Linked DNA regions of Homo sapiens. The protein of the gene in region 1 interacts with the protein of each later gene in a biochemical or structural test. Each region holds a gene or a part of one and is shown in the gene's direction. Other genes may lie near its edges.

The links.
Region 2: of the proteins of PRDX2 (region 1) and TXNDC5, one has a biochemical effect on the other in vitro, tested with the Homo sapiens proteins (one study listed by BioGRID).

What each region holds. Positions count from the first base shown.
Region 1 is NC_000019.10:12,799,701-12,803,448, reverse strand, and holds the start of PRDX2 (peroxiredoxin-2), read left to right. Parts: upstream 1-1,648; 5' UTR 1,649-1,709; intron 1,710-2,178; 5' UTR 2,179-2,187; coding exon 2,188-2,290; intron 2,291-2,379; coding exon 2,380-2,533; intron 2,534-3,149; coding exon 3,150-3,272; intron 3,273-3,459; coding exon 3,460-3,590; intron 3,591-3,748. Other genes in the region: THSD8 (thrombospondin type-1 domain-containing protein 8 precursor), read right to left, coding at 1,230-1,377.
Region 2 is NC_000006.12:7,890,279-7,893,926, reverse strand, and holds part of TXNDC5 (thioredoxin domain-containing protein 5 isoform 1 precursor), read left to right. Parts: intron 1-2,190; coding exon 2,191-2,306; intron 2,307-3,648. UniProt on the Homo sapiens protein: Protein disulfide isomerase of the endoplasmic reticulum lumen involved in the formation of disulfide bonds in proteins. Can reduce insulin disulfide bonds.

The sequences.
Region 1 (3,748 bases):
GAAGCTGACTTCTGTCTTCAGGGGTGTGACCATGGCCCTACCTAGAAGGCACAATGCCACCTGACAGCAGGGTTGTCAAGTGATAAATGGCATAATTGACATAATGAAGGTAAGTAAATCTCCCGGTGCTGTGCTAGCATATACAAACCAATTTATTATGATCAGTTTGTTTATTTATTTAATTTATTTATTTTGAGACAAGATCTTGCTCTGTTACCCAGGTTGGAATGCAAGGGCATAATCATGGCTCACTGCAGCTTCAAACTCCTTGGCACAAATGGTCCTCCTGTATCAGCCTCTTGAGTAGCTGGGACTACAGGCGCATGCCACCATGGCAGGCTAATTTATTTTTTATTTTTATTTATTTATTTATTTTTGTAGAGTAGGGGGTCTCTCCATGTTGCCCAGGCTGGTCTTGAATTCCTGGGCTCAAGCAGTCCTCCCGCCTCGGCCTCCCAAAGTGCTGGGCCATCAAGTCAGGCTAATTTTAAAATATTTTTTGTAGAGATGGAGTCTTGCTGTGTGGGCCAGGCTGGTCTGGTCTCCGAGACCAAGGGATCCTCCCACCTCAGCCTCCCAAAGTGCTAGGATTATAGGCGTGAGCTACCGCGCCGGCCACTGTGATCACTTTAAAGGGCTCTTTACTGAATCTGCCCCTTTCCCCTATGAGACAGATCTTATCCCAACTCCGATCTTATCCCAACTCACCGCTCACCAAGGTCTGACACCTCCTACCCTCCCACACCCATGTCTCTGCCACACCTCACCGACCTCTTTCCATTTCTCCTTCAGGACTTTTCACCTTGGCATTTGCTATTCCCTCTTCCTTGGACATTCTTTCCCCAAATCTTTCCATATGGGACTTTCGCTTGTCGTTCTCGCTGCACTGGTCACGGGTCTTCTGCAATCGGACCCTCTCTGATTTCCCAAGCTTGCCCGCCCCCTTCTTTCTCTGTCTCTGCCCTTCCTGGCACCTATCCCCGAGTGACAGCTTCAGTGTCCTGCCCACACCCTCTCTTCCCCTGGGAGCTGCTTTAAAGCAGTATCTATTTCAATATATCCAAGAGTAAACCGAGCCTTAGAGAAAAGTAACCAGCCCAAGGGGACGCCTCCAGTGCGGAGCTGGGTGGAGATTTGCAGCCCGCCGAGGAAGGTCCCTTTGCAGCCAGCAGGAGAAGTAGGGCAACGGGGAGCCTTTGGGCATCGTCATCCCCGCCGCCTGAGGTTACCCTTTAGATGCTGCAGCCTCAGCTGCTCCCAGCTGTCACCTTCGCCCTGCTGCCCTAAGTACTGATAGTCCTGGTAGACCAGGGCAGGGGTCGCCAGCTGCAGGAGTAGCAGAGGCGCCAGCAGCAGCGCCCCCGGGGTCCGCGCCATGCTGGACTCCAACGGCCCCCAACGCGCTCCCAGGCGGAGTCGTGCGCGGAGTCTGCGGCGGGCGCATTACCCACGCGGGCAGGTGCAGTGGTCCCGGCCGAAGGCAACGCGTCTCCCCCCGCCGCCCGCAGGCGCATGGACCCGGCCGCACGCTCCCCCGCACCTGCGGGCGCAGTGGACCCGACCGCTCCGCTCGTCCGCTCCCTCCCCCGCGCCGTGCACGTCTTGGTTCGGGCCGGGCATAAAAGGCTTCGCGGCCCAGGGCTCACTTGGCGCTGAGAACGCGGGTCCACGCGTGTGATCGTCCGTGCGTCTAGCCTTTGCCCACGCAGGTATGAACACCCGGAGTGCACCTGGCGGGAGGACCCCCTTCAGGCTGCTTTGGCCCGATCCTGACTTTAGTGCTGGCCGCCTTTGCTTTCCATCCGCTATAGTGGCCTCCTTTGTCCTTGCGGGGGAAACCGAGGCCACAGCCTTGCAGCGCAGGCCTGATCGCCCGACTTCCCGCCCCCTGCTCGTGCGGGCCTCACTGTCTCCTTCTGGGCTGGGGGCTTGCGACACCGCCCTCCGGCCGACTCGCTCGTGGGGTGCTGGTGGCAGTGGCTGGGTCACTCGTGCTCTGGTCAGGAGAGCGGGTCTCCGGCAGCCTCCGGGCCTCGTAGACCGGGTACCCGGGAGGGTGAGGGTTAGTGCTGTCGCCTCCGCCGTGCTGACTCAGTCATAGGGCCCAGCACGCAGCGCGACCTTGGGTTGGGAGGACAAAGTGTCTTCCCGGGCGCACTGACCGGGCGGGGGTCTCAGCTTTCAGTCATGGCCTCCGGTAACGCGCGCATCGGAAAGCCAGCCCCTGACTTCAAGGCCACAGCGGTGGTTGATGGCGCCTTCAAAGAGGTGAAGCTGTCGGACTACAAAGGTGAGCGCCGCCCGGAGGGGGCCCAGGTAGAAGCGGGGCCGTGCATGAGAGAAGCTGGGCCCTAACTCCTCTGTGTCCCTCCTCCCCAGGGAAGTACGTGGTCCTCTTTTTCTACCCTCTGGACTTCACTTTTGTGTGCCCCACCGAGATCATCGCGTTCAGCAACCGTGCAGAGGACTTCCGCAAGCTGGGCTGTGAAGTGCTGGGCGTCTCGGTGGACTCTCAGTTCACCCACCTGGCTTGGTATGAGCAGGGGCCAAAGAGGGAGGTTGCAGCTAAGCTCACACCCTCAGGTCCTAGCAGTGTGGCTTCGTGGCCATTGCTCAACCTCTGGAACCTGCGTTTCCCCATCGTGAAAATAATGGAAACATTGCCGCCCAAGTCTTTAAGGATGATGACAGTAATTAGCATTTGACAACTAGTTGCCTGGTATATAGAGTTGCAGATGCAACTCAGATGCAACTCTATCTACTCTATGTACTTAGTTCCCAGGAGGGAGGCTGTGCTGCCCTATTTCATGAAGATGGAAACTCCAGTTCACCGAAGTGAAGGGCTGTACCCCATGACACAGCTAGAGGAGGATGGGGACTCTTAACACAGGCTCTCTGCTGGGTGATGCTGCAAGTTACAAGTACATGTGAAGCCACTTAGCTGGAGCTGTGCCTCTCAAACTCAGTCTTCCCAGCCATGGGGATACAGTCCTTGCACCCAACCCAGGGTGGGGTGGGTGAGGCTCCCAGCGGCCTACTCTAAAGCCCCTTATCTCCGGCCTCCAGTGCTTATCACATTGGGCCCACAGGGTGAGGACCCTGCTGTGCCAGGCATCCTGAGGCCCCAACTCTGTCTCCCCTACTCCCAGGATCAACACCCCCCGGAAAGAGGGAGGCTTGGGCCCCCTGAACATCCCCCTGCTTGCTGACGTGACCAGACGCTTGTCTGAGGATTACGGCGTGCTGAAAACAGATGAGGGCATTGCCTACAGGTACTGTGGGACCCTCAGCCCGGCTCAGGGAGCGCCCTGCCCCCCATTCCTGTGATGCTGGGACCACTCCTGTACAATGTCTTCTCTGCCCCCAGCCCTGTGGCTAGCAGCGGGTGGTTGGTAGTCCCTTCCTTGTCTCTGGCAGTGGGAGCTATCAGCTCCTCACTGGGAACCCTGATGTCTTCAGGGGCCTCTTTATCATCGATGGCAAGGGTGTCCTTCGCCAGATCACTGTTAATGATTTGCCTGTGGGACGCTCCGTGGATGAGGCTCTGCGGCTGGTCCAGGCCTTCCAGTACACAGACGAGCATGGGGAAGGTGAGCAGATACACACATGACACATGGGTACATACTGAGCGCCTCCGTCACTCATGCAAACATTCACTGCCTGTCCTCTTACCTGTCCAGATGGGTGTTAGGGCCCCAAAGAAGATTCAGCTCAGGGCTTTGTCTGCAGGATGTTTCTAATGTGGTAG
Region 2 (3,648 bases), on another chromosome or scaffold:
AACACCGAATGACTTGAAAGCAATTTTGGCTTCCTGGCCGGCTCCCATTACCAAATGCTACCATGGAGAGAAATCCCCTTAGAAGACTGGGTTGGAAACGTGAGAAATGGCTTGGATTGCCTCTGGCCTTGTGACTTGTGCCTGCTGGGAGTCAGAGCCCCTCCCCCACCACACTTACTGTCCACAGTAACTTATCGTGAGGCCTTCAGCCTTTTCCCACTTTTGCTAAAAGTTATTTCATCCATACCAGCGCCCTGACGGCAGAACTCTAGCATGCTTTCCGCTACGGGAATGCATTTTCAGCTGGGATTGTCTTGGGCTCTGAGCAGGGTGTGTTTCCCAAATCACCTGTTACGGACCGACTCCGGCAGGACAGACCGACTCCGGCAGGCCTAGCCAGCGCCTCCCTAAGTGGGTCACTGCCACACAGCTGTGTCGTGTAGGTACCATGGTGGCTTCCTGCCCTTGCTGGCTTCCCATCAGTACTCTGATTAGGTTCCCAGAGAGCCTGTCTCCACCTTACAGTGCAGGATCTACTGTGCACCTGCACATGGTTTCAGCTTTGCACATTTTTTAATGGAAGTTGTTAACTTTTAAAGGAAGTTTTTCACCATTTTCTTCAAGTGCATTGTTGCTGTGCTGATGAGACAGTAGCTGTGAGCCTTAGTGTGGCAGAGTCCTGCTCAGACGCCAGGCCACATGCCACTGGTTAGTTCTCTCCCCGGCCACAGCCTGCTTTCAGTTTGGTATCAGCCCAATGTCAGGGTAGAACAGCTAAACACCTTCTGTGTCCAAATAATGATGCTGTGAGGGTTTGTTTGTTTTTTTCCCCGTAGCCAAGGGGGTGATGTTTCATTTTTTAAACTTTTTTTTATGATAAAATATAATACAGATCGAGAAAACAAATGTAGGGCTTAATGAATTTTTATAGCGTGGTCACACTGTAACTACTGTCCAGTTCAAGAAATAAAACTGCCAGCTTCCCGTGTCCCATGCAGGGCACAGCCCGCCCTCCCTTCTCCAAGAAGGCACTTGCCTGACATTTGTGGAAACCACTTGTATTAGTCCGTTTTCACTGCTGATGAATACACACCCGAGACTGGGCAATTTACAAAGGAAAGAGGTTTAATGGAGAACTCACAGTTCCACGTGGCTGGCGAAGCCTCACAATCATGGTGGAAGGCAAGGAGGAGCAAGTCACATCTTATATGGATATCAGCAGGCAAAAAGAGCTTGTGTAGGGAAACTCCCGTTTTTAAAACCATCAGATCTCATGAGACTTATTCACTATCACGAGACCAGCATGGGAAAGACCTGTCCCCGTGACTCAGTTACCTCCTACCTGGTCCCTCCCACGACATGTGGGAATTCAAGATGAGATTTGGGTGGGGACACAGCCAAACCATATCAACTCCTTTATGTGCACTGAAGTGCACATTCCTGAGCACTATAGTTCTATATGTGTATGTGTTTATATATCTTTTAAGGCTCTTTTAACCTGCATGTTCTCCAGACATCTCTTTATCTTTCTTGCTGAAGACATAGGTGGTTTGACCTGTAGAGCTCCCCGTGGTCCAGACTTTGCTAATTGTGTCCCCGTAGTGTGGTCTACATGTTTCCCTGATTTCTCTGTTTCCTGGAAATTGGTAGTTGGGTCTGGGGACAAAATCAGTTTCAGTGTGATGTTTTTTGGGGGCACAAGAAGACCTCATAGCTGGTGGGGGCACAGAACGTCCAGTTGTCTCTCTTTGGGATGTGGTCGACCATGACAGGCAGAGCCTGGGTCCGTCCATTCCTTAGGGCTGCCAAGTGCCGAGGCTCATTCAAGCGTCCCTTCATTTTTTAACCAAGAGAAACTCACCCTCATTTATCACCTGGTTATTCAGCGGTACAGTGCATATAGGAGAGGTGGGAGAAATGCCTGATTCTTTCCTTTTATTACAGTTTTCCAAATAATGAGTTGATTGCTGATTGTCCATCAAAGATGACAAATTTGGTTTTGAGTATTGTTATGAAGTCATGAACAGAAACACATTTGATGGAGTCCCTTTGTACCAATTAAAGTGCTCATGCCGAACTAAGATTTGCTAAGCAGGACAAAGATCTGATTCTTCAATTAACTCTCTAGTGAGGTCTGACATAAATTACAGTTCCTCTTTCCCCCGTCTCTGCCTTGGCTCTCCACTCCAGGCGACCACTTTATCAAGTTCTTCGCTCCGTGGTGTGGTCACTGCAAAGCCCTGGCTCCAACCTGGGAGCAGCTGGCTCTGGGCCTTGAACATTCCGAAACTGTCAAGATTGGCAAGGTGAGTGAAAGCCCTTATTAAACTGGAAATGGACTGCTTTGGGCTGGATTAATTAGCAGAGTGGCCCATTATTCATTCCGTGTGCAAAGTCGCAAACTTGATTTATTAATTCCATTTAGTGTGCCACTTGATAATTCATTTCACCTTCACAGATGGCAGTCTGATTTTGAGTTTTGCTGGCTTTTCCACAGCCTAGAGATAAATTATGGCCTCGGCTGCTTTGTTTATTTTGAAGAGATGGCCAAATCTGAATTGGCAGCCCCAGAGCCCGTTCTGCAAAGAGATGGGGTAGAGCCTTGTAGAATGTTCACTGGACGAACTTGGAGACCGTCCACGTTCGACCTCACCCAAGAGCTCTCTCTAAAAGGACCCTGGCTCTGTGCTCCCCCAAGCACGCAGAAGACCCTCCCTCAGTTTGCACTGTGCCTGGGATTCTTTCCAGCATTTCCTACTTTATACAGAGAAGCCAAGAGTGGTGTCTGACAACTTCTGTGTAACTGGATTTTCTGGAAATATCCAGTGTAGCTCCAGGGACATCACTTTTATTCTTCTACACTTTCCAGCACCCACCAGACACCATGCATAGATTTCCTTTCTTAAAAATCTCATTTTTCTACCTTGCCATGGGGCTGATTTGTATCCAAAAGTAATGCTGCGTGTCTAGGACTGAATGATGGTTAACAGGATGATCTACTTGGGATGGTGAGATGGTCAAAAGCATAAACTTGGGGGTTGGGTAGACCTGGCTGGCTGACCTTGGGAAAAACCTCTCCACGCCTCGGTCTCCCCCTTTGCAAAACTGAGCTAAGATCTACTGTGTGGTGTCTGGGCAGATGAAAGTACACTGCTTAGTGTGATGCTTAGCATGGGGCAGATGCTTGGTAAATTGTAATCACTTTTGTTGTCAGTTAAATGGATATTTCACTGTTGCCTCTTAAACGCTTACGATAATATATACTAATTATACATGTTATTATCAGTTTATATTTATTGAACATTTCGGGGAAGTAATTATAAAATAATCTTGTCTACTGTCTTACCCCATTCCTTGTATCCTTACTTAATTATTGTATGAAATTTTATGGGAGATTCTTTTAGGTTTATATCCATAGAGGATCCTAGCAGACCTAGGCGTGAGCAGACACAAGCCCAGGTGACCACGCTGAAGCCCTTCATCCCTGGCACATGTGGCTGGGTTACACTGGACCCTTAAAAATGCTTGTCCTCTCCCGACCTTGGGCTGAGGCCTCTTGTACTTCAGTTCCGCACCTTAGCTGCTCTCTGACGGGTCTTAGGTGTTGAAATAGTATTTTTACCCCCGTTTGCTGACATAGTGAATAAC